4 linked regions of the Homo sapiens genome follow. The protein of the gene in region 2 purifies or fractionates together with the protein of the main gene of each other region. This does not show direct contact. Each region holds a gene or a part of one and is shown on either strand. Other genes may lie near its edges.

Region 1 (7,137 bases), on a different chromosome or scaffold from region 2:
GTGGTTCATCAGTTTATTTGTAATGCATGTTTATCCATAATATGACAAAAATAAATCAATTATTTACTGCCATTATGGACTTAGACTGCACTAAGTACCCATTTACAACACTTTAACACCACAGATCCCCTTACATTCACTGACTTACTCAGAAAAATTCCAAATACTATCTCAGCTACCTCATAATTCCAGTTGCCTACATATGTTTAAGATTTAGTTTTATTACAGTAGGAATATTCATGAAAGTTTACCTTCTTCCTTTTAAACAAAATTCTAGATTAGAGACAATGGCAATTTGATTTAAAAAAGTCCTACTTAAAAATTTCTGGAGTGAAGCTGGGCACGGTGGTTCACACCTGTAATCCCAGCACTTTGGGAGGCCGAGGCAGGCAGATTGCTCGAGTCCAGGAGTTCAAGACCAGCCTGGGCAACATGGCGAAACCCTGTCTCTATAAAAGATACAAAAAATCAGCCAGGCATGATGGTGCATGCCTGTGGTCCCAGATGGGAGGCCAAGAGCAGATCACTTGAGGTCAGGAGATTGAGACCAGCCTGGCCAACATGGTGAAACTCCATCTCTACTAAAAATACAAAAATTAGCTGGGTGTGGTGGCACATGCTTGTAATCCCAGCTACTTGGGAGGCTGAGGCGGGAGGATCCTTTGAACCCGGGAGGCAGAAGTTGCAGTGAGCCGAGATAGGGCCACTGCACTCCAGCCTGGGCAACAGAGCGAGACTGTCTCAAAAAAACCAAAATAAAACTGTGGCTCAATGAAGTGAACAGAATTGCCCCAAATTATAGCTAAAGACTTGCAGATCCAGAATCTGCAACTACATTCTACCAGACCTCAAAGTCAGGGCTTTTCACCAAGTGTGACATCAATGAGTGAGTGTGAAAGATTATACATTTTACCAGTCTAGAATCTGAGCGACAGAAGGAATCTCATCTCTCATCTAACTCCCAATTTACAAATAAGGTAATGGAGGTCTGGGGGAGGTTGGTTGCTTAAGGTTATGCGTAGGTGACTAGTGGTACTATTTGAACTGGAGTTTGAATTGGTACCTCCAGATTCCTACAGACTGTGCTATGGATGGGGTTGGAATAAATAATCTTGAATATTCTTTCCAGCTTTCCAATTCTAAAGTGCAGAAAATCCCTCTGATCTTAAACCTGGGTGGGGCCCAGGCCTGCCTGAAAGTCAGTGACCATCTGACTCTGAACTTGGCAAGTGAAGACAGGTTCTGTCAGTCCTCACCTTTCACCCATATACTGGCTCAGCTCATACACACAGGTTGACAGGGTGGAAGCATGTACCAGGCTTATGCCACAGGCACAAAGCCCCTTTTTCTTCCTCCCTCCTGCCACGTGTAGATAATCTCATTTTCATGTCTTAGATGTTTGCACAAAATGTAATTTCACAAGAATCACTCGATCCTCCTGAGAGGGTGAGGGTATGTAGTGATGACGTTGGGTTAAGTGGTCCCAGATGCAGAGAAAAACAACCCAGCAGCTCGGGTGAGGCCTGTGACACAATGTTCCACACATGGGGAAGAAGCCTGGCCTCTAGCTCTTGGAGTGTGGGGAATCCCTGAGGGCAGTTTGGTGAGAAATAAGGTGAGAAGGGTCTTTGAGACAAATTTTGAACTTGGCTCCAGGAACTGAGTTACTCACTCAGTAAGTTAGAAGTTAGTTTAGGTTTGGTTTAGAGGGTGAAGAAAATTTCTAATATTGAAGAAGGAGATCTGGCAACTCAGACGAAAGCGGAGTTCGAAGGCTGGAAGAACTGGAAGCTGGATTTAAGAAAGTACTGGGGGAGGGAAGGGGAAGAGGATTTACTAGGGCTCTTTTCAGAGGGGAAGTCGATTCTGGGTGAAGTGTTTCGAAGGCAGGGTAGCCAGTGGTGAGGAGGAGAAGAGAAATTTGGGTGGACCCTGGATCTGAGTATGATGGAGTGTGGATGGGGTACTGAGGGTGGTGTCTAGAATTCTGTGAGGGTGAGCTGCACTTACAAGGGGTACTGTGGGTGAGGAAGGATATTTTGAGGGGAGGAACCTGTTGAGGAGGGCTTGGAGAGAGTGAAAGGTTTCCGGGTGAACACTGGATTTAGGAGATTAAAGATTTAAAAACATGGGGGAGGGTCAGTTGAGGACAAGGGTGAACACTTCAGGGCTGTGCTTGTGGGGGCTCATGGGGGGTGAAAGAACAGAGTACTGGAGAAATGGGAGGTGGGGCTGAGGGTCCTGAGTGACAGGGGTGAAGGCGGTGCTGGGAGAAGTTAAGGAATGGTAACCATGATGTATTAGGAATCAGCCTACCCATATTCCGGGTAGGAATGTGAGGCAGTCATTAAAGTACTTCAGGAGACACCATAGTCGAGGGATTACAGCGGCGCTGGAAATATGCAGGTCTGGCATTTTTCAGGGAGAAGAGGACTCAGGATAGCTGGCTGGAAGTTAGGTTAAAGGAGAGGGAATCTGAGAAGCGTTCAAGATGGAGAATCTGAGATAGCATCGAGGGGTTCTGGAAGAGAATTTGAGGGTTCTGAGGTTCCTGTGCTAGGAGATTGTGAAAAGTCCCAAGACTTCCAGATTAGGGGCTGTGGCAGCCTCCATGGTAGGGGCTTGGGGGCGGAAACGGGTTCACTAGAGGAGTCATGAGTGACTGCAGTCAGGTTGGGGCCGATCCTGGGACGGCGGCGGGCGGCGGGGACCCGGAGGCCAGGCTCACCTGGGCAGGCTGTCCTGGTAGTGCATGGTGGGCACGATGCTGCGCTGCAGGTACTGGCCGGGCCCGGAGCCGGCGCTGAGGGGCCGACTGGGGGCTCCCGGACCAACCGCGGGGCCCCGGGGCCAGGCGCGCAGCAGCAGGCGGGGCACCATCGTCCCGGGAGCCTGCGGCGGCGAGAACGCGGCAAGTGGGGAGTTCTGGAGTCTAAACACAAGGCCGCCGCCGCCGTTAGCGCCCAAGACACTGCGTCAGGACTCCTGAGGCACTTCTCCGCCCGCAGGCCACTTCCGGCCCCTGTAAGGCCATCGGCTCCGCCCCGGACTGGCTCCTTCCGGGCAGGGGCCGCTCACTGACAGGCCCCGCCCACTAGTAGGCCCCGCCCGGAAGGGGGCCCCAGCCTCCGCGCTGCTCGTCTCCCTTCCCTTCCCTAGGAGGCGGGAAACCGAGCGCCGCAGCCGCTCCTTCCCCTTTTTTGGAGCAAGACAGAAACTGGAGTTGGAAAAAAAAAAGAAAAGCTAAGAAACGTGATTGGAATCTGATAACCCAAAATTTGATCCAGGCTCCATCCTTGCGAGACTGTGGACTAAATTTTAAACCTCTATTTCCTCACCTAAGAAGTAGATAGATCGTAATGATTCAAAGTACCTCCCAAAATTCTAGATATGAGATAAAGATAACATGTTATGCACAGTGCATGGTGCTTAATAGGAAAGCAGTAAACGGTAACGGATGTTACTGTTGTTAGTAATCCGTGCTGAAGGTCATTGACATATAATGACCCTGAACCCTGCACAGCTACTGCCCTGCCAGCTCACCTGAGTGGATGGATATTAGAAAGGATTTGTGCAGGAGTTGGAAACCTGGAGTTTCCCGCTGGCCACCACTTCAGTGCAGAAAGCCCCTTCCGAGCGGAATCCCCTCTGCCTGAACATCCATTCTTGGCTTGAGCATTTCCAAAAACAAGAAGCTCACTGCTAAGAGGAAAGAAACCCTTGTCCTCCGGCTCTAGGAAGTCTTCCGTGTTCAGTCTATTGGAAGAGGCTTCCTGTCACCACAGACCACCTCCAAGATTCCTTCCAACTCCTGACTCTAAGATTCCGCTACTTGAACATAGATCTATCATCCCTCATCCATCACAAAACAGCTGCAGAACAGCCCACCACGCCCCAATCCCTGATCTTAGAAGTAGCTGCAGGATTAAGTAGGCTCTACTCCCATTTTACAGAAGAAGACAGGGAGTTACCAAAAGACACACAATTATGCTGCCTAGCTTGAGGCACAACAGAATTCCATTTTGGGAACAGAACTGCCCTTTAGCCGTTTGGGGCAGCCAAGTACATTCTGTCTGTTCCATAATTGGCTAAGCAGAGCCAGAAGCTGGAGCACACCAGAAAGAGTACTGGATTGGGAGTCAGGAGACCGGACTTTTAGTTTCAGCTCTTTGTTATCTAGTTAGGTGACCTCGGATTGAACAGGAAGATCACTAACCAGCTCTGGCACTCATTCAGTGGTGATCACAAATGCTTAACCCATTTCCCGTTTAGAAAAAAACAGCGCAGCTTGCTGCCAGCTCTTATTTCTTAGGGCAAATGGGAAATGGCTTAAGAACTAAGCATGAAATTCAGAAACACTGAATATCGAATCCTCCTCTCTTGAGGGGAGAAAAGGCCCAACTGGCCCAACTCCAAAACATCGGTGCCATTTGCCTGTAGTGTATAAGGCCAGAGGGAGAATATAAAACTCTTTCTGAAAATGAGCCATCTCCTCTAAATCCTGATCATTTTCAGAGCCTTGATACCCGAGGCAAATATCGAGATCTGTGTAGTGCTAAGGGGATCAGAGGACCAGGAAGAAATAGTGGGCCCAGTAGAAAAGCAGCGGCTCTATTCTAGAGACAGAGGGCCAAAAGATTGAGCCCATCCAATCTAACAGCCAAAAGAGGGACGTGAACACCTTTGGTGAGTGCATGGCCAATGGGAGCAACTCTAAGCCTTTAGGCTGGTGTCCAAGGCCTTCTGAATTCTGACCCCTACCTACTTCTCCAGCTCCCATCATGTCACCCCAAAATACTCTATGCCAGGGGTGTCCAATCTTTTGACTTCCCTGAGCCACACTGGAAGAAGAATTGTCTTGGGCCACACATAAAATACACTAATACTAATGATAGCTAATAAGCAAAAACAAAACAAAATTGTAAAAATATCTCATATTTTAATAAAGTTTACTAATTTGTGTTGGCCTCATTCAAAGCCATCCTGAGCTGTGGGTTGGACAAGCTTGCTCTATGCTGTAGTAACACTGAACCACTTCTCATTCCCATCCTTTTCCTTACTCTGCGACTTATTTATTTATTTATTTTAGCTGTCTCTGCTGCCTGGAATGTTCTTTCCATGCATCTCTGCCTAGTAAACTCTTACTTGTCCTTCAAACCCTATTTCAAAACTCACCTCTTTGAAGTCTTCCTCAATCCTCATCCTTCTTCCTCACTGCAAGAATGAATCCCTCCCACTGTGATTTTACAGCACTTTTTACATTCATTTACAGTTATGTACATGAAACACAACTGTATTAGGGCTTTTAAAATAATCAGCTATTTAATTACCAATTCATCTCTCACAATAAATTTTGAGGTCTTTGGGCAGGGACCTTGTTTCCACTGTGTGTCCACTGTGTCTAGCACAGGCCTACTGTGGGGAGGTGCTTTGCTTCCTTTTCCTGGGGATGGCCCTGGGGTCTGGATCACATTAAGAATAACCATGAGCTGGTAGTCCAAAAAGTCCATATATTGCTGTGTAAGGGTCAAGAAAGTTCCTCTACTTAGAGAAAGATCCTGAAGAATACATTGTTTCTATTGAACTAATCCCCAGAGTTCTGCTCTGTTTTGAATTAACTATGAAAAAGCAGTACATGATGGCCAGGTTAAAGTCATATTCATCTTCAAAATCAAAGTTCTGAAAAACAATGAACTTTAACTGGCTAGCAGTAGAGTTCACATTTCAACAAAAAAGAGGTCCAGTTGGGTAAGTATGACCAAAGAAAACAAATGTGACCACCCAAATATTCAAAGAAATGTCAGGAACTAGTACCTAGAGTTGGCCTGGCAGTCCCAAGTTCTCAGGTTCTATTGGAGCTTACCTGGACTAAACAGTGCTTGAAATGAGGAAATTCATAGGCAAGACCTTGAAAAGCCCTGCCTATTTAATGGGATTTGTTAAAATGAACTCTAACCCTTTTATAAATATTGAGTATGTGAGAAAGTATTTAAATGCAAAAAAGTGAAACCAGAGTATTAAAAAAATGCTCTCTCTGCCCCATAAAGGAACTTTTAAAACATACCTGTGGACACATTAGATATTGTAACTAAACCAATCAATGAGAAATTCATGGTATGTGGGAAAAAAATCTGTTCCTTTTAACTTTACAAGGAATCTGATGTTTCGTTTTTGAAGCATTGCTCAGAACTGCTGGAGAAAAAGAATCGATGTACAGAGCATGAAGAACTTATTGCATGAGGGTCTACGGGGAGTGACAAATACAGTGTACTTTTGAAGGATCCAGAGGACCAAATTTATGCATCTCAAACATGGTCCTGGTCATCTGGGCTGGCAGGTTTCTGGGCTCCTGGTTCCAAGGATGCAATGGAGAATGGGGGTTGGGGAGGAGGTAGAGACTTGACCCATAGCTAACATCTTCTGGGGAAGGGCCCTAGAGCAGGAAGGCCCTTGCCCCTCTCTGGCCCCTCTGGCAATAGATTCCTGACTTCTGTTGCACTCCTGTATGCATTTAGCTCTTCTGAAGTGAGGAAGGCTAAGCTCAACTCCAGCACCCTCCAACTGTCACCATTTTCACTGTGGATTTTTCTTGTGGAGGTAGGCCTCACCCACCTAAAGCCCCAAGCCAGTAGCCAGGTAGAAGAAGGGAGGACAACTTTTAAACTCTAAAATAACAGCCTGGTCCAGCTCCTAGGTGCAATGGGATTATTGTAAAAGACCAGTTTCCAGTGGAAAGTGGAACTTTGCTTCCTCACTGGGTCCTTAGGTTCCAGTTTTCTTTATGCCCCTTTGCCAATTTCATTGAAGGAAAGAACTTTAATGGGGCTGTGTGTGTGTGTGTGTGTGTGTGTGTGTGTGTGTGTGTTCTGGGTTAGTGAAAATGTCACCAAATTCAGCAACATAGAAACCCCAGTCAAAAAAATTTAAGATTGTAGAAGAAATGGACAAATGATGACAAAAGGAGCTGAAATCAAGAGTTTGGTATTTTAGCTAGGCACAGTCCTAGCTACTTGGGAGGCTAAGGCAGGAGGATAGCTTGAGCCCAGGAGGATCCCTCAAATTTGAGGCTGCAGTGAGTGAGCTATGATCATGCTCCTCTAGCCTGGGTGACAGAGTGAGACCCCATCACACACACAC
Region 2 (7,834 bases):
TTATGGAAAGAATTTATGGGAAAAGAGAAAAATTGGAAAAAGGCTAATAACAATATTAAAAATGGCTTTGAGTACATGAAATTGCTGTGGTATAGATGAAGTTATTCACATGGGTGTATCACATATCCACAAGTTTCTTTTTGAATCACCATGTTTACTGGTAGAGGTGATAATGATAACCTTTTAGTAAGCTTTTTTTTTTAAGCCAAGCACTACCCTAAACTCTTTATGTATAATTATCAAATATTCAATCCCTTTGTAGTCTGCTCCCAAGGGACTGTACAGTTTTTTTGAATCTTACTAGTATTTTGTCGTATATGATTGCTACAATAAATGGGCTACTGACTGAAGTCAGGAGATGAATGAAATAGTACTTGTACTGAAACATGATACAATCAAAGATTTAGGATTCTTTCTAAAAGATGGTGCAGGTAAAAAGCCTATCCACCACTGAAGGCAATGGAAGGGTATTAGGCGTCTGTGTGCTGTGAGAGAGCCTCCACTTCGGAGTCACAGATGGCCAAAAGCCATTCAGTAGGGCTGAGGACCTTAGAAGTCCTTTACTTCTACTTGGATGTCTGTGGTGATGAGAACCCACTATACGGAGGCCCTACTTATGTCGCTGGATTCTGGGGAGTGTCTGTCTAAAGCCTGACAGGTGCTGCCAGTTCCTATCCATTTCTCCCTTATTCCCTGCCCTCAAATCTAAAATATAGTAACATAAGGATAAGCCAGGAAATGATGAAAGCAGGTATGATGATGAAGTTCAAGATGGGTTGGCCACTGTAAGCACACCTGCCCCAAGTGACAAGCACAAGTTCAAGATGGGCTGGCCACTGTGAGCACACCTGCCCCAAGTGACAAGCACAAGTTCAAGATGGGCTGGCCACTGTGAGCACACCTGCCCCAAGTGACAAGCACGGTAAAAATGAATAACACTTTCACTGAAGCATGGCGTGTGGATTAGAGGGCTGTAGCTAGTGAGAATATGGTTACTTAGCATGAGTAATTCTAGGTACTTTAGTAATCCAAGTCCCCATCCTAGGATCTAAGAGCTCTGAGTGCAGAGGCACAGATCCCTGTGACTCACTGGGTTACAGAGACAAGAGATGGTTCCCCAGAATCTCCTCTCTCAGCAGTTCAAGGATTCAGTTTTCATATCTTAAAACTCCCATGTCAAAAACGTATGAAAAACTTATCTTCTCATATTTAGACCAAAGACTTTGTAACTGCTAATCAACATCGGAGTTACATAAGGTTAAGTCAGATTCAGCCAAATGAAGGAACAGACTAGAAGACAAGGTTCTCTGTTTATTGGGCTAAACGGGGCAGTAAATTGTGGCTTGTACCTCGCTTCTTAGATCTGCTTCTGGAATAAGCAGTTTATTGACAGTTATCACCACATTGGCAGAGGTTTTGCAAAAATGAAGGGCTCAATCTTTCAGTAAACGCTTTCTTAATTTTTAATCTGACATAGAAAGTTGAAGAAGTAATCTAAAAAATAGAAGGTTTGAGGAATAGTGGTTCTTCCTAGAGACCATAAAGAGCCACAACACAAATGATAGTGAAAAACGGGTTTCAATTTCCATTGAAAATACTCTAAGATACACAGGTTTGAGAATTATATTTTTCTAATTGTAACATTTTGAATTTCATTTCAATGCTGCTGTCCTAAGACAAGTATGAGAAATTAATCCTAGGTCTCCACACCTTAAGATACACTGTGTAAGGCCAGGCATGGTGGCTCACGCCTGTAATCCCAGCACTTTGGGAGGCCGAGGCAGGAGGATCACCTGAGGTCACAAGTTCGACGTCAGCCTGGCCAACATGGTGAAACCCCACCTCTACTAAAAATACAAAAATCACCCGGGCATGGTGGCAGACGCCTGTAATCCCAGCTACTGCGGAGGCTGAGGCAAGAGAATCCCTTGAACCCGAGAGGCGGAGGTTGCAGTGGGCCGAGATCGCGCCATTGCACTCCAGCCTGGGTGACAGAACAAGACAAAAAAAAAAAAAGATACACTGGGTAATCACTAACCCATTATTCCTTGTGGCGTTACGAGGTCGGACCAATCCTTGATATCCTCAAATTTCACCTTAATGAGGCTGACACCTTTCAGCTTATCGACTGGCAACTCCTTTAGGTATTCTAGACGGCTAAAGAAGAACATTTTTGGCACAGCTCCAGCCTTGAGAGCGTCTGAAATGAGCCTGCGACCTTCCAGCAGGATCTTCCCTTGTTTTTCCCGAAATGGCCTGGACTTTACTATTGTCATTACACTGCTGTAGATGGAAATAAAAAAAAAAAACAGGTAACTATCAACATCCTTGTTACTGAGACACGCTTAGTTGTAACAGAAATAAAGAGCTACGGAGAGGGCCGGGCGCGGTGGCTCACGCCTGTAATCCCAGCACATTGGGAGGCCGAGGCGGGCGGATCACCTGAGGTCAGGAGTTCCAGATCAGCCTGGCTAACATGGTGAAACAAAAACAACAACAAAGAGCTAAGGAGAAACAGAAGCTAATTCCAAAGACGCTTATTCGGCCCTCTGTGCATAATACAAAAACCAGCGGGCTGTACTGGAAGAAGTCCTCCATCGGAAGGAGGTTAAGGTTCCGCTGTGCGACGGGAAGGGAAACGAGAACATTCGACAGGCTCAAGAACCACATCACCTCAGCCTCCTGTCCCCGGGATAAGCTTTATCGTAGCGAAGCCCAGACTCTTCCCAGGTGCTGGGAGCGCGGGATGCGGACTCCTCGAGCGGTTGTTTCTCTCGTTGCTCCTGGGCACTGGCCTCAGATGGTGCCTTGCGGGGCTGCTTCCCAGGAGCGCGCTTCTGTTCCACCACCTCTCCGGAAGGAAACACCACTTTCACTGGGCTCCGCCGCAGCGCCCGGACCCAGCGCCTCGCGTCAAGGTCCCAAGCCTGGACCACCTGCAGCAACGGTCGCACGACAAACCTCGCGGGTCTCACCAGCGCCGCCATGTTCCCTGAGACCCGGGCTGCGTCACGAAAGCGCGCCGTCGGCGGCTAGTGACGTCACGGCCCGTGGCGCCCTTCGTGGACTGGGCTGTACGGTGCGCGTGACGGCTGCGTGCGGCGGGAATCATGGCTGCTCGCAGAGCTCTGCACTTCGTATTCAAAGTGGGAAACCGCTTCCAGACGGCGCGTTTCTATCGGGACGTCCTGGGGATGAAGGTGCAGGCCGGGGCCGACAGGGGCTGGCGCGCGAGGCTGGAACCGGCGCCCGAGCCGGCCCTGGCGGAGGGAGGGGAAAATGGGTGTGTCGTGAACCTAAGCCGGAGGGTGTCCGACCTTAGGCCCTGCGCGGTGTTCAGCTTCAGGAGCGTGGCGAGTTGCCGTTGGGGATCATAGGCCTTGGAGAAGGGCCTAACACGATTAGTCCCCGCGGTGTGCCCACGCACGTCCTTTCATTTAAGCCACTCGTAAACGTTTATTGAGCCCCGCCCTTGTGGAGCTTACCGTCTACCGGAAAAGACGGTAAATAAAATGTTATATAATGCTTTCTAGTTAATATTTGTGTTTTCCGGTTTGGAGCCTTTGATGTAGATAAAATCAGCGTATTCAGAGTTCTGCTTCTAGCAAGGCTGGTCTGAATAGTCCGTTTCGGATACTCAGTCTCTGAATATATGCTCCAACTCTCAACCCATCTGCTTTTCAACAGCACCCAGAAGCGGTCTGTCTCGGGTCCTGAGGAGCTGTTATTTGCAGGATTCAGTTGGTTGGGGAACTGGGTTTTGGGGACCTCCTTTGATAAGCCAGGGAGGTAGGGAACACACCACTAAGGAAGACTTGAAAGGTGCAAGAGCGCGGTTTAGTGTATAGACGGTGCAATAGACGGGGATCTGAATTCGTCAGGTCATTTTTAAAATATCTGCTATTTTCAGGGTACTACGTTGAGTTTTGGCAACAAAGGTGCAAATGACCCTGATATATATCCTCCATTAGAGCTCATGGCCTGGGTTGGGGTGGGAGTTGGAACTGGATTTGTACGTAGATGATGGTAATGGAAGTCAGAATTTGATAGTGAAAAACCACCAAACTTTCGATAGCAGAAACCACAGAGCTGTCCCTTGTTAGTATTTCCTCGTCGATCAAAAGGTTGTTGCAAAGATTAAACACGTGCCGGCGCGGTGGCCCACGCCTGTAATCTCAGCACTTTGGGAGGCCAAGGCGGGTGGATCACTGGAGGTCAGGAGTTGGACACCAGCCTGGCCAACATGGTGAAACCCTGTCTCTACTAAAAATACAAAAATTAGCCGGGCATGGTGGCACACGCCTGTAATCCCAGCTACTCGGGAGGCTGAGGCAAGAGAATCGCCTGTATCTGGGAGGCGGAGGTTGCAGTGAGCCGAGATCGCACCATTGTGTTCCAGCCTGGATGACGAAAGCAAAACTCCGTCTCAAAAAAAAAAAAAAAAAAAAGATTCAACACCTTATTATATGTATAGTATTTAACATATCGGTAATAGTAGATTATATAAGTGTTAGCCACTATTATAAAAATACAAAAGAAGGAGCGGTTTTCCAACCTGGGTGATGAGGAAATAATTCATGTAGACCTTGTATTCGAGTTGACTTTTTTTTTTTTTTTTTTTTTTGAGGTGGAGTCTTGCTCTGTCGCCAGGCTGGAGTGCAGTGGCGCGATCTCGGCTCACTGTAAGCTCAGCCTCCCGGGTTCACACCATTCTCCTGCCTCAGCCTCCCGAGTAGCTGGGACCACAGGCGCGTACCACAACACCCGGCTAATTTTTAAAAATATTTTTAGTAGAGACGGGGTTTCACCGTGTTAGCCAGGATTCGAGTTGACGTCTAAAGATAGGATATCCACAGGTAGATGAGAGGAGGAGCTACATAGTAAAACTGAAGAGCCAGTGCGGAGATGGCACATGTTTGCGAAGCCGCTGGTTTTATGTGCCTTTAGTTGAGGTTGCTTAGTTGAAGTTAAGGAGATGGGATATCAGGATGGACAGGTCGGCATTGCTTCTAATAGTATCTTGAATGCTATGCTAAAGAATTTGGATTTTATGCTGCAGTAAGATGGGAGCTCACTTATGTTCTTAAACAGGGTGGTGATGGGATCAGTGCTTTGTGCTTTAGGCATGTGCTTTTTTGGTGTTATTAAGGAAGGATATCAATAAGGATTTTTTTATTTTTTATTTTTTATTTTTTTTATGTTGAGACGGAGTCTCGCTCTTTCGCCCAGGCTGGAGTGCAGTGGCGCAATCTCGGCTCACTGCAAGCTCCGCCTCCTGGGTTCACACCATTCTCCTGCCTCAGCCTCCCGAGTAGCTGGTACTACAGGCGCCCGCCACCACGCCCTGCTTATTTTTTGTATTTTTAGTAGAGATGGGGTTTTACTGTGTTAGCCAGGATGGTCTCGATCTCCTGACCTCATGATCCACCCACCTCGGCCTCCCAAAGTGCTGGGATTACAGGCGTGAGCCACCGCGCCCGGCCAATAAGGATGATTTTTAATAGTCTGAGCGAAGCGTTGGGAACTTCAACTGGCAGGAGCCGTGGGAATCAAAAAGGAGGGCTAAAGCTAACACGTTGAGAGCCCGCTGTGTGCAGGGTTCTGTGAGATGCTTTCATAACATCCATTCCCATCACATGTTAGGAGACTGAGACTCAGATTCTAATTTGCTCAGAGTTACACAACTACTAAATGACAGAATTCCAAATCAGACTTTTTTTTTTTTTTGAGTTTGAGTTTTGCTCTTGTCACCCAGGCTGGAGTGTAATGGTGCAATCTCAGCTCATTGCAACCTCTGCCTCCCGTGTTCAAGCAATTCTCCTACCTCAGCCTCCTGAGTAGCTGGGATTACAAGCGCCCACCACCATGCCTGGCTAATTTTGTATTTTTTATATTTTTAGTAGAGATGGGGTTTCACTGTGTTGGCTAGGCTGGTCTCGAACTCCCGACCTCAGGTGATCTGCCCACCTCAGCCTCCCAAAGTGCTGGGATTACAGGCGTGAGCCACGATGCCCATCTTTTTTTTTTTTTTTTTTTTTTTTTTTTTAATTTGAGATGGAATTTTGCTCTTGTCACCCAGGCTGTAGTGCAGGGGCACGATCTCGGCTCACTGCAACCTCCATCTCATGGTCCAAGTGATTCTCCTGCCTCAACCTCCTGAGTAGCTGGGATCACAAGCACACGCCACCACGCCTGGCTAATTTTTGTATTTTTAGTTGAGACGGGGTTTCACTATGTTTGCCAGGTTGATCTTGAACTCCTGACCTCAGGCAGTCCACCCACCTTGATCTCCCAAAGTGCTGGTATTATAGGCGTGAGTCACTGTGCCCGGCCCAAATCAGACTTCTTTAATGCTGAAGGCCACACTTTTTCCCACTGCATAGCACTGCTTACCAATCTAAATAGATTTCACAACTGATTTGGTAGCCTGACCCTTGGTGTCAAGCTGTTCGTCCTTCCACTGCTTCTATCCTGGGAGAAGTGTAAAGCTCATTTGCTTTTGTTCTTTTACAAGTAAAGCTTATAAATGATAATGTTTGTGTTTTGACATTTTAGTCTGTGCTAAAGACGCTGTGAGCAGTACTAGCAACACTTCACAATTTATTCTAAATCTCACACCAGGTTCTGCGGCATGAGGAATTTGAAGAAGGCTGCAAAGCTGCCTGTAATGGGTATGATACCTTGTTTCTTAAAATCTCCTTTAGGCTCTGACTACACCCGGATAACAGAAGACAGTTTCTCAAAGTGAGTATAAAGCAGTGGAATTAATTAAGGAGGCAGTAAATTAGGGAGGCAACTTCAGGAGCGTCGGGAACACATACTGTTTCTCTGCACTCTCATGAGTATAAAGCAGTGGAATTAATTAAGAAGGCAGTAAATTAGGGAGGCAACTTCAGGAGCGTCGGGAACACATTTCTCTGCACTCTCATACAACACCTGTGGGACACAAAGGGATTCTCCAGCTCTCTAACACCAGCCGGCTGTCCTGTTATTTAATTGATTCTGACTCTACCTGGAGTTAATGTCAGATCCTGCAAGTTAAGGGCTCAGTCCCAGAAGATTTTCCGCCACGTCAGGCGCCGGTCACAGTCTGGATCTTCAGGATTTCCGATGACCAACTACAAGTCAGGGCTCCCGCTCCTGCTTCCTTGGGTTTGATAGTCTGCTACAGTGGCTCATGGAACTAAGGGAAACGCTGGAAACACTTACTTACATTTACTGGTTTATCATAAAGAGTACGAGTCAGAAATGGCTGGACAGAGGAGATACACAGGGCAGGGCATGGGGAGTGGGTGGCAGAGCTTCCATGCTCTTCTGGGCAGGCTCCAATCCAGCACCTCCCTACGTTCAGCATCCCAGAAGCTCATGAGTCTCATTGTTCAAGCCTAATAGAGCCCAGTCTCCATCCCTTTCCTTCCCAGAGGTTGGTGGATGGGACTGAAAGTTCAGTCCTCTAATCATTTGTCTTTCTGGTGACCAGCCCCATCCTGAGTCTATGTAGAGGCCCCACTCTAAGTCACTTCATTAGCATAAACTCAGGTGTGACTGAAAGGGGCTCATTATGAATATAACAAAAGATATTCCTATCAGGAAATTCCAGAGGTTTTGGGAGCTCTGAGACAGGAACCAGGGACAATGACCAGATATGTTTCATATTATGCCACAAATGCAAATAAGTACATGCTCTAGATGAAGCAGCGGCTTTCCAGTATCTTTTTTTTTTTGAGACAGAATCTCACTTTGTCACCCAGGTGGGAGTGCGGGGTCATTATCCTGGCTCACTGCAACCTCTGTCTTCTGAGTTCAAGCAATTCTCCTCCCTCAGCCTCCCTAG
Region 3 (7,023 bases), on a different chromosome or scaffold from region 2:
GCAAGTTATCCAGAATACCTAGTTAAGATCACTGATGAAGGTGGCTACACTCAACAACAGATATTCAATGTAGACAAAACAGCCTTGTACTGGAAGATGCCATCTAGGACTTTCATAGTTAGGGAGAAGTCAATGACTGGCTTCAAAGCTTTAAAGGACAGATAACTTTCTTGTTGGGAGCTAATGCAGCTGGTGACTTTAAGTTAAAGCCAATCAGTCATTTATCACTCCAAAAATCCTAGGGTCCCTAAGAATCTTATTACATGTACTCTGCCTGGGCTACAGAAACGGAAGAACAAAGTTTGGTTGACAGAACATCTGTTTACAGCATGGTTTATTGACTATTTTAAGCCCAATGTTGAAACCTACTGCTCAGAAGACTCCTTTCAAAATACTACTGCTCACTGACAATGCAGCTGGTCACCCAAGAGTTCAGAGGGAGAGGTACAAGGAGATTAATATTGTTTTCAGTCTGCAAACACAACAGCCATTCTGCAGCCCACAGATCAAGAAGTAATTTTGACTTTCCAGTCTTATTAAGAAATACAAGGCCACACCAGAGATGCATGCACAAAGAGGATAAAACCATGTAAGGACACAGGTTAGCCATCTGCAAGCCAAAGAGAGAGGTCTCAAAAGAAACCAGCAGATTGATCTTGGACTTCTAACCTCTAGAACTGCGAGAAAATGAATTCCTGTTGTTAAAGCTAAAAAAAAAAAAAAAAGAAATACAGGGCCAAGCATGGTGGCTCATGCCTATGTTCCAAGCCTAGGCAACGTGGTGAAACCACATCTCTACAAAAAACAGAAAAATTAGCTGGGCATGGTGGCACACATCTGTAGTCCCAGCTACTCAGGAAGCTGAGGTAGAAGGATCACTTGAGCCCAGGAGGTCGAGACTGCAGTGAGCCATGATCGCGCCACTGTACTCCAGCCTGGGCAACACAGCAAGACCCTGTTTCAAAGGAGAGAGAGAGGAGAGGAGAGAAGAGAACAACAACTATCTTGGAACTAATTACCAGTATAGAAATTGGTTGAAGTTAAAAAACAATGAAGTGGGGGTTCGGTTTGCTTTATGTGCTCAACTGTTCCTCCAATGGGTATATGGTTCAGTAATTTATAACAACTACTTAAATTACTTATCTCACATCATTTCTAAGGGAAAGACAAAGACATACAACATAATGTACTTTAACCCTATATTCTGCTGTCCAAACCAAAATAAAAAATCTAAGACCTGAGAGGCACATTTAAAGATGTCCAAAGTGGTCCGTGTTGTCCTATTTTCTAAGAGGTAAAAGTCAGTAGGCAATGTTTTGGGTAAAAGAGGTAACTGCGGCTACTTTCACATTCATAGGCTATAAAAGCTACTGATTATCCTGATTATCTGCTGGGGTATTGGAAACTGCTATCAAAGTTTGCAAGTTACTTACCAATGTTTGTTTATTGTGCTGCTGGTATAACAACAATCATTTTGCATAATTAACCCAATTACCACAAAAATGTTCACCAACAGACTATTATTCGTTTTCTAAGGACCAAAAATTGTAACTGTAGGCAGTTTCCAAATATTATATAAAACAGGTAGGCGTCCCTTGGTATATGCGGGGGATTGGTTCGTATAGCAAAATCCACGCACACTCAAGTCCTGCAGCCGGCCCTGTGGAACCACACATACTAAAAGTTGGTCTTCTACATACATGGGTTTTGCATCCTGGGAATACTATAATTTTGATCCATATTTAGTTGAATGAAATCTGCATGTAAGTGGATGCAAGCAGTTCAAACCCACGTTGTTCAAAAGTAGACTGTATATATACATGTTTGCAATCAGAAAGCATTTTCCCAAAAGATTTCATAAACGCCTATTAGTTATCCAAACTAAGTACCTTAAAGACTTTTAAATCCATACTGAGCCTTAAGTACAAGATCCCTTTGCTATTCCTGTATTTACTCAGTCCTCGAATACTGACAGTAAGTTTGGACAGTGAGGGGGATAACATCATCTGAATCTATGTGGTTCCTTAATTTCAAGTGATGTATACCAACTGACAGTGACAAACCTATTTTAAAAAACTTTTACCAGAAGCTCTCCAAACTCCAGCATCAAAGAGAAAGATTCTGAATACTGTAGGCTATCTATGTTGTATTTACTGTATTAACAGTCTAAACAGCCTTAACCACCACATATAACAAAGACTTGGGAACAAATGTCCAGAAGTCTAATACTTAGCATGCTGTATTAACTGCTCTCTCCATACCCTTGTAATAGTAGGTTTAGGAACTATCCAAGATTCAATTCGTTGGTGGTAGCTACTGTGTCTGGTGTAGGAGACCCAGCAAAGGTTGTTCGGGGAGTGGGAGCAAGCAAGAAACCTGAGCAAGGTCAGGGACTCTTGACAGGGAGACGACTGGAATAGGGGATGAAGAACTATGTGGGGCGAGGCCCTGAGGTAGATTTCTCAGGACATTTCCATCATGCCTGCATGGCTCCCAGGAGAAGTATAAAGACCTTATTCTCCTCAGCTCCCTGGATGTCCGCCAGGCCTGACATATTTGCTGTTGAAAAGGTGGAGAGAGATGAACATATACTGCCTACTAACCTACTGTGCCAAAGCAGGTAACTCAATGTACATTAAAAAGTATAAACATGGGCCGGATGTGGTGGCTCATGCCTGTAATCCCAGCACTTTGGGAGGCCGAGGCTAGCGGATCACGAGGTCAGGAGTTTGAGACCACCCTGGCCTGACCAATATGGTGAAACCCCGTCTCTACTAAAAATACAAAAATTAGCCAGGGGCGTGGTGGTGCTCGCCTGTAGTCCCAGCTTACTCAGGAGGCTGAGGCAGAAGAATCGCTTGAACCCGGGAGGCGGAGGTTACAGTGAGCCAAGATCGTGCCACTGCACTCCAGCCTGGGCAACAGAGCGAGACTCCATCTGCCAAAAAAAAAAAAAAAAAAGGCAAATAAAAGAAAAGAAGTATAAACATGTCAGGGATTGCTTTTTTTTTTTTTTTTTTCCCTTGAGACAGAGTTTTGCCCTTGTTGCCCAGGCTGGAGTACAATGGCGTGATCTTGGCTCATGGCAACCTCTGCCTCCCGGGTTCAAGCAATTCTCCGGCCTCAGCCTCCCAAGTAGCTGGGATTACAGGTGCCTGCCACCATGCCCAACTAATTTTTTGTATTTTTAGTAGAGACGGGGTTTCACAATGTTGGTCAGGCTGGTCTCTGAACTCCTGACCTCAGATATCCACCCGCCTCGGCCTCCCAAAGTGTTGGGATTACAGGCGTGAGCCACCGCGCCTGGCCGCTTTTTTTTCTTTTCTTTTTTTTTTTTTTAAGATGGAGTCTCACTCTATTGACCAGGCTGGAGTGCAGTGGCATGATCTCGGCTCACTGCAACCTCTGCCTCCCGGGTTCAAGCAATTCCCCTGCCTCAGCCTCCAGAGTAGCTGGGACTATGAGTGCCCACCACCACGCCTGGCTAATTTTTGTATTTTTAGTAGAGATGAGGTTTCACCATGTTGGCCAGGCTGGTCTCGAACACCTGACCTCAGGTGATCCGCCTGCCTCGGCCTCCCAAAGTGCTGGGATTACAGGCATGAGCCACCGCGCCTGGCTGTCAGGGATTGCTTGTAAATGTACTGTAAGTAACACGACACAAGAAATGTAAAAATAGAAATGGTAAAGTCTCACTATAAGATTTAATTATTTACGATCTTTAGGAAATAAGTCACAAACTATTTTCTCTATTTCTTTGAAAAATATAAAAATTGGGCAAGGCATAAAAGTAACAATTACTTCCAAAGTTGATACTGATTTGCATTTAAAGCACCAATATTTGAACAGGTAATACTATAAAAACGTGTACTTAGCCTACACATTAGAGATAATACATGAGATGGCTTCTGAGGCACTATTTTTTTAAAAAGGATTTAGATACTTAAATTTGAAGTGCATGTGGGAAAAAAAAATTTTAACAAAGTATTTGCTCATTACCTGTATGTTTTCGAAGATGTTCTTTAAAATGTCCAAAATGGTCAAACTGTTTCTCACAGTACTGACATACATGAATTTTTTTCCCAGTTCTTTGCTTCTTACTGACTCCACCTTCTTCAAGGTGGTAACAATTTAGGTGCTGTTTCCATGCGCTCTCTCGAAGATATCGTTTATTGCATATTTCACACTTGAAACTCTCAGTGGAGTGTGATTTCATGTGCTCCTTAAAATGGTAAAACAATTTAAATGAACGGTTACATTTCTCACAATGGAACAAGTCCTTCACATGTGACAGCTGAAGTTCCACAATTTCAATACCTTCTACCTGTTTGCTCGTGGGGTCAGATGGACAGCCATCTTCTTTAATCTGCCCTTTTCTGTCACCTTGACGGTACTTGCTGGTAATATCTGCCAACAGTGCTAGAGCAGAATCATCAGAGGAACCTGTGCTCTGTATGTACTTTACGGACTGCTTGGCAGAAGCCACTTCCTCTAATGTTTCGATGCCTTCATCTTCCACTTCAATGGTGCCTTCGGCAATCTCTACCTCAATTTCAACAGGTTCTGATTCTGCAGATGGCAATGACTCAGTGATAACATTTGAAGTTTCTGCAATCTTCCTTTTTTTGGCCTCATTTTTTCCTGTGGTATTTTCCTCTAAGGGAGCTGAGTTTTCTTTGTTCCTGAAATACATAATGTAGGGGTTTAAAAAATCTATAAGAAGATCCTACCAGGCTTTTTTGAAGAAACTGATAAAGTGGCAATAAAATTTATATAAACAGTTATAAAACAAGACTGCAGGGCTTATCCTACCTGATTTCAAGACTTAAAGCTACAGTAATTAAGACAATAGTACTGGTGAAAGCATAGACACGAAGATTAATGGAATAAAGTCCATGGAAATAGACCCACGCTTAGTCAACTGATTTTTATGGGGGAAAAAAAGGTGCCAGTCAGGTGCAGTGGCTCATGCCTGTAATCGCAACACTTTGGGAGGCCAAGGCAGGTGGATCACCTGAGGTTGGGAGTTTGAGACCAGCCTGACTAACATGGGGAAATCTCGTCTCTACTAAAAATACAAAATTAGCTGGGCATGGTGGCATGCCTGTAATCCCAGCTACTCGGCAGGCTGAGGCAGGAGAATCACTTGAACCCAGGAGGCGGAGGTTGGGGTGAGCCAAGATCGCACCATTGCACTCCAGCCTGGGCGACAAGAGCGAAACTCTGTCTCAAAAAAAAAAAAAAAAAAAAAAGTTCCAAGCTAATCATTTAACAGTGATGCTAGAACAATTATGTGTATGGGAAAAATAAGCCTCAACCTTTACCTCATATCATACATGAAAAATTAATTCAAAATGGGTCACAGACCTAAATTTAAGAATTAGTAAATTTCTAGAAGAAAACAGGAGAAGACCTTAGTGACATTGGTTAGTGAAAGATTTCTCATTCTCTCACCCAGGCTGGAGTGCAGTGGTGTGATGTTGGCTCACTGTGGCTTCAACCTCTTGGGCTCAAGTGATCCTCCCACCTCAGCCTCTCAAGCAGCTGGGACTATAGATGCGTGCCATCACACTCAGCTAATTTTATTTTTGATAGAATCGAGGTCTCACTATGTCACCCAGGGTGGTCTTGAACTCCTGGGCTCAAGTGATCCTCCTGCCTCGGCCTCCCAGAGTACTAGGATTACAGACATGAGCTACTGTGCCCAGCTGACAGATTTCTTCTTTTTTTGTTTTTTTTTTTGTTTTGTTTTTTTGAGATGGAGTCTCGCTCTGTCACCCAGGCTGGAGTGCAGTGGCGTGATCTTGGCTCACTGTAAGCTCCGCCTCCCAGGTTCACGCCATTCTCCTGCCTCAGCCTCCCAAGCAGCTGGGACTACAGGCGCCCGCCACCACGACCAGCTAATATTTTGTATTTTTAGTAGAGATGGGGTTTCACCGTGTTAGCCAGGATGGTCTCGATTTCCTGACCTTGTGATCTGCCCGCCTTGGCCTCCCCCAAAGTGCTGGGATTACAGGCGTGGGCCACCGCGCCCAGCCTGCCCAGCTGAAAGATTTCTTAAACAGCATAAGAAAGGCAGAAATCATAACAGCAAAAATTGATAAAATAGATTTCATCAAAATTAAAAACTGCCCTCTGAAATACAGTTAATAAAAAAGCAAGCCACAGGCCAGAAGAAAATAGTTGCAAACATTTATCTGTCAAATTTTTTGTTTGGTTTTTTTTTTTTTTTTTTGAGACAGAGTATCTCTCTTGTGGCCCAGGCTGGAGTGCAGTGGCACGATCTTGGCTCACTGCAACCTCTGCCTCCCGGGTTCAAGTGATTCTCCTGCCTCAGCCTCCTGAGTAGCTGGGATTACAGGCTCCTGCCACCATGCCCGCCTAATTTTTGTATTTTTTAGTAGAGACGGGGTCTCACCATGTTGGCCAGGGTGGTCTTGAACTACTGACCTCAGGTGATCTGCCCACCTCGGCCTCCCAAAGTGCTGGAATTACCGGTAAGAGCCACTGTGCCCAGCCTAAAGATCTTATATCTAGAGTGAAGAAAGGATTCTCACAACTCAGTAAACTCAGTAAAAGACGACACCTGTTGGGAGACAATTCTCCTTGAGTCTCTTCAGTTTCCTCACATCTTGTGAACTGAAAACTTTCGGTTTGGATGTTTGCAGTATAGTATAGTAGATGAAAGGGCAGGTTTATTGTCCAATATAATAAAGAGAATGCCCCCACTCTGGAAAAAACGTTAGGCAGGTTTGTTTGTAGCCCACTATAAAAATTTTGAGATTCCTAAGCTGGAGATTCTTCAGCTATAATATAAATCAATCTTATGCATTCACCTGGGCCACTCTATGTCACTCTTGTGGGACTTGAGGGGAAGGGAAAACTGGTATAAAAATGAAATTTATACTGCTTGCTATGTAGAGAGTAATAAGGTCCTTTCTTTCTGACTCAGAAGTCTTCTATCTTCTTCCAGCATCCATGACACTGTGGCAGGAAAACTTGTAGGCTTGCAAGTAGAGTAAA
Region 4 (7,089 bases), on a different chromosome or scaffold from region 2:
CAATTATTGGCTATCATGAGTAAAGCTGCTATGAATATATGTGTAGATGTTTTTGTGTAAACTTCAGTTTTCATCTTTCTGGGATAAATGCCCAGGAGTTCAATTACTGGGTTGTATAATAAGTGGCTGTACTACTCTGGAGTTTTATATTCCCACTAGTAATGTATGAGTGATCTTGTTTTTCTATATCCTTGCCAGCATGTGGTGTTATTGCTGTTTTTCACTTGAGCCATTCTGCTACATGTGTAGCGATAGCTCATCATTTTAATTTGCATTTTGTAATGATTGATGATATTGGACATCTTTTCATGTGCTTATCTGCCATCTGTATTTCTCCTTCAGTGAAATGTCTGTTCATGTCTTTTGCCCATTTTTTTTCACTGTTTTTGAGAGGGTTTTTTTGCATAATTCAGACACAGGTCCTTTGCTGAATATGTGGTTTGCAAATATTTTCTCCCAGTCTGTAGCTTGTCTTTTCATCCTCTTAACAGCATCTTTTTTAGAGCAAAAGCTTTTAATCTTGTTTTTTTTGTTTGTTTGTTTGTTTTGAGATGGAGTTTTCCTCTGTCACCAGGTTGGAGTGCAGTGGCACGATCTCAGCTAACTGCAACCTCTGCCTCTCAGGTTCAAGCGATTCTTTTGCCTCAGCCTCTCAATACCTGGGACTACAGGTGCGTGCCACCATGCCCAGCTAATTTTTGTATTTTTAGTAGAGAAGGGGTTTCACCATGTTGGCCAGGATGGTCTCGATCTCTTGATCTCAGGTGATCTGCCTGTCTTGGCCTCCCAAAGTGTTGGGATTACAGGCGTGAGCCACCGCGCCTGGCTTTAATCTTGTTTTAAGCATTATATTTTTGATATCAGGTCTAAAAACTCCTTGTCTATTCCTATATCCCAAATATTTTATCCTACGTGTTTTTCTAAAAGTTTTATAGTTTTATGTCACATATTTGCATCCATGATTTATTTTGAGTTAATTTTTGTATAAAGTGTGAGGTTTAGGTTCATTGGGAGTTGGGGAGCGGGGAGCCGTGGATATGAACATCTAATTGTTCCAGCAGCATTTGTTGAAATGCTATTCTTCATCTATTGAATTGCCTCTGCACGTTTGCTAAAAATTAGTAGGGCATGTTTGCGTAGGCCTACTTGTGTCTTGAGATAATCACAAAAAAAGTAGAGGAAAATGACAAAGCTTTAAAAAGTTAGAGAGATGCTAATAAATATGAAGGACAGATAAAGTCATTCAGCATAAGGAGAGCTGCAGTCCTTGAAAAGATAACATACTGAATGGAATGCCAGAATATGTATTCAAAGAGACTTTCTCTAAAATGAAGGAAGAAGTGAAACTGCAGAATGAAAACATATTATGTTTTTGAAAATTTTGATAAAAATCACAACACAAAAATTACTCAACATTAAGATATAGCCTAGTTAAGTTACTGAACTTCAAGAATAATTTTTTAGGTTTTTAGGCAGATAAAACAGGTCACATTTAAGGGTGGTAAAAAAAGAAAAAATCTGGCTAGCCTCAGACTTCTCCAAAACATTTAACTCAAGAGCATAATGGAGTAATGTTTATAAAATTCTGAGAAAATGAAACTGTGACCCAACAATATTAAATCCAGACAAAAATGTCATTCAAGTATAAAGATAAAAGCAGACATCCTCAAACATGAAAGAATTAAAGGAATATGACATCCATGATTAAAATTTCCAAACAACAAAAATAGCAATGACTCTGCCAGTAAAATCCAGTCAGTGAAGAAATCATTTAAAATAGGCCAGGTGCAGTGGCTCACGCCTGTAATCCCAGCACTTTGGGAGGCTGAGGCGGGAGGATCACTTGAGGTCAGGAGTTCAAGACCAGCCTGGCCAAACTGGTGAAACCCCGTTTCTACTAAAAGTACAAGAAGTAGCCGGGTGTGGTGGTGGGCACCTGTAATCCCAGCTACTTGGGAGGCTGAGGCAAGGGAATTGCTAGAACCCCGGAGGCGGAGGTTGCAGTGAGCTGAGATTGCACCATTGCACTCCAGCCTGGGCAACAAGAGAGAAACTCCGTCTCAAAAAAAAAAAAAAGAAAAAAAGTTATGGATACTGTTGTGGGTGTAGGGCTATTTTGGGAGTAGTCAAATTCTTTGATTTCTTGGCTCTACTCTGGTGCACTTAATTTCTGTAGGCTTTATGTTCTAAGATATTGACTGTAAATAATGACTAATAAATTAATACCATGAAGTATATTAGAATTGAATACAAATTCTTGCTAAAACTTCCTAGGTGCTTCCTGTGATTATACCTACATGTTTTTGTATATATGTATGCATGTTTGTATTTATTTTTGGTTAACACACATTTGTTTTAGAAACATGAGAGAATAACCTTGGTCGTCCTTTATTACATTACATCATGAGTCTTGTGGACTGAACCTGCGAAGCATAGCAGCCGGGTAGGTGGAGGGAGATGAGTCTGGAAAGATAAATGGGAGTCAGATCATGAAGGGCCCCACCTGCCATGCTAAGGACCCTTTACTTTATTGTGACCAAGGGCTCCCTGATGGATTCTTCATAATGGGACTGCCGTAACAGTTTCATTTGTAAAAGATCCTATAGGTAGTAATGTGAAAAAACTGACAATGGGCCTGGAGTAGATTGAAGAGGCAGGAAAGGGGTGTATCAATTGAATGTGGAAGATGGAAAAAGAGAGGAGCTTCTGGGTGGTTTGGAGTTTTGGGCAAATGTAGGTATGATTGGCTGTTTGGCATTGCAAATATGGGAAGAGATTCAGGGGACACAGTGAATTCCCTTTTGGACAAGTTGATATTGAGTTTCCAATGGGGTATTCAAGTGTAGTTTCCTAGTAGTTGATGGTTAAGTGGGCTGGAGCTCAAGAGAAAGGCCTGGGTTGGGCAGACAGGTCTTGAAGTGGAGGGAAAAACCCAGAGGGAGAATGTTCAGTAGAAGAGGCTTAGAGTCCTGGCAAACACCAACTTTTAGGGCAAAATGTAGTGTTTCACAGCACAGTCTTTGGCGTTAACCTATTACTAGCAGGGTAACCTGGGGCAAGTTATTTGACTTCAGTGTCTTAATTGCAAAATAAGCACTATACCATCTACCTGAGTTAGAAAAGCATTTGCAATTTTTAGTTCCTTGAGAGATCTGTGGGCTGGGCGCAGTGGCTCACGCCTGTAATCCTAGCACTTTGGGAGGTGGAGGTGGGTGGATTACCTGAGGTTAGGAGTTCAAAACCAGCCTGACCAATATGGTGAAACCCCATCTCTACTAAAAATACAAAGTAGCCAGGCGTGGTGGCACATGCCTGTAATCCCAGCTACCTGGGAGGCTGAGGCAGGAGAATTGCTTGAACCCAGGAGGCAGAGGTTGCAGTGAGCTGAGATTGCACCACTGCACTCCAGCCTGGGCAACAAGAGTGAAACTCCATCTCAAAAACAAAAACAAAAACAAAAAACAGATCTGTGAATAAAGAGGAGTCCAAGAAGGTGCAGAGGGAACTATGAGGAGGTGGAGCTCTAGAATATATTGAGAAAAGAGAATTTCAAAGAAGCCAACAATGTCAAATCCTCCAACAGGACTGTAACATAAGTCTGTAAAGTGTCCAACTTTTAGCAATTAGTGACCTTACCAAGGGCAATTTCTATGGAATGAGATGAGCCATATTGTAGAGGTTCGAAGAGTGGATAGTGGTCAACACGGATACATCGTTTCCTCCCCTCACGGCATCTGTCTCTCCCACTAGACTTTTCCTTTAAAGGCAGTGACTTATGAATATTATTCCACTGTTTTCAATCAATTCCATCCACCAGTGAGATATATTGCATCAGGTTACCTTTCATTCCACCGCATTTGTGCCTTGCACTTAGTAGGCGATCGATAAAATAACTGATGATAAAGGGGCTTCTGCAGACTCCCCAATTCATTTGGTAAAGACCGCTCAGCATCATGGTCGGGCCCTGATTGCTTTCACAACCGCTTCGAGGAGTGTCATTCCCATCACGGCCACAAGGTGGAGCCCACCTCCCTGCTCTGGGACCTCAGGTCGCGACCCCGGAAGCACATCCTTCATCCTCTACCTTCCTTCTAGCAGAAATGGCGGCTGCGGCGGCTCGAGTGGTGTTGTCATCCGCGGCGCGGCGGCGGCTCTGGGGTTTCAGCGAGAGTCTTCTAATCCGAGGCGCTGCGGGACGGGTGAGCTTCCCTCCAGGCCGGTCCTGTCCTCGAGATCTCGCCAGACCCGGCGCAGCGCACCTGAGAGTCGGCGCCACAGATCCGAACAGTGGGTCGGGCAGGGCCTCCTCGACCCGGACCCGCCGGGCGCCAGGCGGCCTGGGGCTGCTGAACTGGCCGGGGGTGACTGGCTTGTGGCCACCCGCCAGGAGACCTGCTAGTGACGTGTGGGATGACCCTGGTTTTCGGCTCCTCCCGCCAGCTACTGAGGAGTGCATGTTTGACCACTAAAAACGTAGTGCTTGCAAATTGGGGAAAACTAAAAAGTGAAATGGGTACCGCTCCAGAGTTCTATTTTTGCCTAAGACTGAACTTCGTCCTCAGCTGGGCTTCCCGCGAACCTGGACATCAATGAAGTAAAATTTTTTATGTATTTGCATTTTTCTCATGAGAGAGCCTCTGACTTTAAGCAAAGGGATGTGAGACTTTTGTATAAGGGCAAAGAAAAACTGCTGAAAGGCGAATAGTTTCTGGCCGAAAAGCCAGTCATTTGCATTTTGAACATCGACCCATCTTCCTATCCTCTCTCTCTTTTTTTTTTTAACCATTTCCAAACCCTGTTGCTTTTCTTGAACAATGAAAACCCGAGTGTCAGTTTTGTCTTGTGTGTAGGTAGTTTTACATAGTTTCCCTCTCTTTTTTTTTTTCCTGCTTGTTTTCTCCATAATGAATATAAAACATTTCTAGGAGAGGTAGTGAAATAAAGTCAATTTCTCTCTGGGTAATGATAATAATTGCTCATCTTCCCTGAGGGAAGGGCATGTTTATAAACACGTTGCTGGCTTTAGGACAGTGGCTGGTGACAGATGTTTCTAGGCCAGGCAGAGATCTCAGTGGAACCAAAATTCAAGAAGAAAGATTCTTTTATAGAGACAGCCTATTTAAAATAGATTTGGTTTTAAAAGCAACATTTAATATCAGATTAGTAATGTGTTTTGCTTTGTCTCTTCCACTTCCTACCCCCAACCAGTCATTATATTTTGGAGAGAACAGATTAAGAAGTACACAGGCTGCTACCCAAGTTGTTCTGAATGTTCCTGAAACAAGAGTAACATGTTTAGAAAGTGGACTCAGAGTAGCTTCGGAAGACTCTGGGCTCTCAACATGCACAGTAAGTGACTCAGGCAACCTTCTCTAAGTGACCCTTCATTTAGCGTAGCAAATTGTTGATTTTAATCTTTAGCTTTTTCGTTGGCTGGTGGTTCAAAAAGGGTGACAGTTATTTTGCCTTGACAGATTTCCATGAGTTGTGAACCTTTTCTTCCAGTGGTACTTAGTTACAGGGTGCATATGTATCCTGTTGCATTGTCTGCATCTTGTTCTTGTAGCTTATTATTGATTATTTATTTTCAGTAGTATTGATAATAATGAAAGAAATATGTTTGCAGGGCTACTCTGCCAAGTGTTTTTACTGATGTCTTATTTGATAAAAAGCAATTGTTTGTAGTGGGCATCCTCACACCTGTTTTATAGTTAAGGAAGTGAGAGAAGTTAAATGGTTTTGTTCAGGTAACTCAGCTAATACATGACAGAGCCAGGATTTCAACCGAAGTTTTCTGACAGTCTCTGATGTTCTTGATACTACAGTTATTAATTGGCTGGATTAATGAGTTGGGCAAAGAATCCTCATTGAAGGTGGCAGGTAGATACTTGTAGCACCCAGCAGTATCCTGATCGAAATTTTTAAATCTCATAGTTCACAGGAATGAACTATCAATTCACTCAGGTCAAGAAAATCTTAGTGTTAAGACCAGAAAGCATTTGTCAGAAAAAGGAAGGAGACTGTTCCCCCCAACCTCAAATAAATAAAATGAATTTATTTAATTGTTCTTTGATTGCATTAAGGTTGGACTCTGGATTGATGCTGGAAGTAGATACGAAAATGAGAAGAACAATGGAACAGCACACTTTCTGGAGCATATGGCTTTCAAGGCAAGTTGTAAGACTTTACAAAAATGCACTCTCTTTAAGAGATAATAAGCACAAAGTCTCATTCTTTAGAGGCAGGGAGAGCTCTTTCAGTAGTATAACATGTTTTATGTTTATTTTTCCAGGACAGTATCTAAAATAAGTAGTGATAATTGCTTTGTAAAGCTGAAATGAAAACTTTCTCTTGGGATGCAGGAGTTATCTGAACGTATACCATTTCTGAAGCCTGATGTACCTTATTTTTTTTTATTTAATTTTTTTTGAGATAGGATCTGGCTCTGTTGCCTAGGCTGGAGTGCGGTGACGCAATCTGCTTACTGCAACCTCCGCCTCCTAGGCTCAAGCCATCCTCCCACATTTACTTCTGGAGTAGCTGGGAGTATCTATATATATATATATGTTTGTTTGTTTTTTCATAGAGATAGGGTTTTGCCATGTTGGCCTCGATCTCTTGGGCTCAATCTGCCTGCCTCAGCTTCTCAAAGTGCTGGGGTTACAGGTGTGAGCCATCGTACCATACCTGATGTACTTTAGAAACCAAATTTGACCCTGCATGAAACTAACTTATGTCCTCCATATTCATTATCTGAAGTAGAATAGATGAAGTATAAAGGGAGTTTGCATAATTTGTTTTTCCTCTTTTATTTCAAGGGCACCAAGAAGAGATCCCAGTTAGATCTGGAACTTGAGATTGAAAATATGGGTGCTCATCTCAATGCCTATACCTCCAGAGAGCAGACTGTATACTATGCCAAAGCATTCTCTAAAGACTTGCCAAGAGGTACTGTTATTATTTATACAGCAGATAATGTAATTTTCATGAGAATCAGGAATTATTTAGTACTATTTTTATTATGTCTGTTGTAAAAGAGTAAGTTCCAGAAATGTGAAAAAGCGAAACTGAATTCTGGGTGAGGGTACA

Evidence for each region.
Region 1: the proteins of MRM3 (region 2) and CPT2 purify together in Homo sapiens (affinity purification with mass spectrometry; 2 studies listed by BioGRID and IntAct, with this or other methods). This does not show direct contact.
Region 3: the proteins of MRM3 (region 2) and ZNF131 purify together in Homo sapiens (affinity purification with mass spectrometry; 3 studies listed by BioGRID and IntAct, with this or other methods). This does not show direct contact.
Region 4: the proteins of MRM3 (region 2) and PMPCB purify together in Homo sapiens (affinity purification with mass spectrometry; 3 studies listed by BioGRID and IntAct, with this or other methods). This does not show direct contact.

The regions. Positions count from the first base shown.
Region 1 is NC_000001.11:53,192,687-53,199,823, reverse strand, and holds the start of CPT2 (carnitine O-palmitoyltransferase 2, mitochondrial isoform 1 precursor), read right to left. Parts: upstream 3,001-7,137; 5' UTR 2,881-3,000; coding exon 2,729-2,880; intron 1-2,728. UniProt on the Homo sapiens protein: Involved in the intramitochondrial synthesis of acylcarnitines from accumulated acyl-CoA metabolites.
Region 2 is NC_000017.11:777,532-785,365, reverse strand, and holds the start of MRM3 (rRNA methyltransferase 3, mitochondrial isoform 1 precursor), read right to left. Parts: upstream 3,014-7,834; 5' UTR 2,988-3,013; coding exon 2,674-2,987; intron 2,284-2,673; coding exon 2,039-2,283; intron 1-2,038. Other genes in the region: GLOD4 (glyoxalase domain-containing protein 4), read left to right, coding at 3,111-3,200, 4,628-4,752, 6,622-6,744. UniProt on the Homo sapiens protein: S-adenosyl-L-methionine-dependent 2'-O-ribose methyltransferase that catalyzes the formation of 2'-O-methylguanosine at position 1370 (Gm1370) in the 16S mitochondrial large subunit ribosomal RNA (mtLSU rRNA), a conserved modification in the peptidyl transferase domain of the mtLSU rRNA.
Region 3 is NC_000005.10:43,158,908-43,165,930, reverse strand, and holds part of ZNF131 (zinc finger protein 131), read right to left. Parts: intron 4,683-7,023; coding exon 4,000-4,682; intron 1-3,999. UniProt on the Homo sapiens protein: Plays a role during development and organogenesis as well as in the function of the adult central nervous system. May be involved in transcriptional regulation as a repressor of ESR1/ER-alpha signaling.
Region 4 is NC_000007.14:103,293,360-103,300,448, forward strand, and holds the start of PMPCB (mitochondrial-processing peptidase subunit beta isoform 1 precursor), read left to right. Parts: upstream 1-4,075; 5' UTR 4,076-4,100; coding exon 4,101-4,199; intron 4,200-5,208; coding exon 5,209-5,349; intron 5,350-6,083; coding exon 6,084-6,170; intron 6,171-6,818; coding exon 6,819-6,948; intron 6,949-7,089. UniProt on the Homo sapiens protein: Catalytic subunit of the essential mitochondrial processing protease (MPP), which cleaves the mitochondrial sequence off newly imported precursors proteins. Preferentially, cleaves after an arginine at position P2.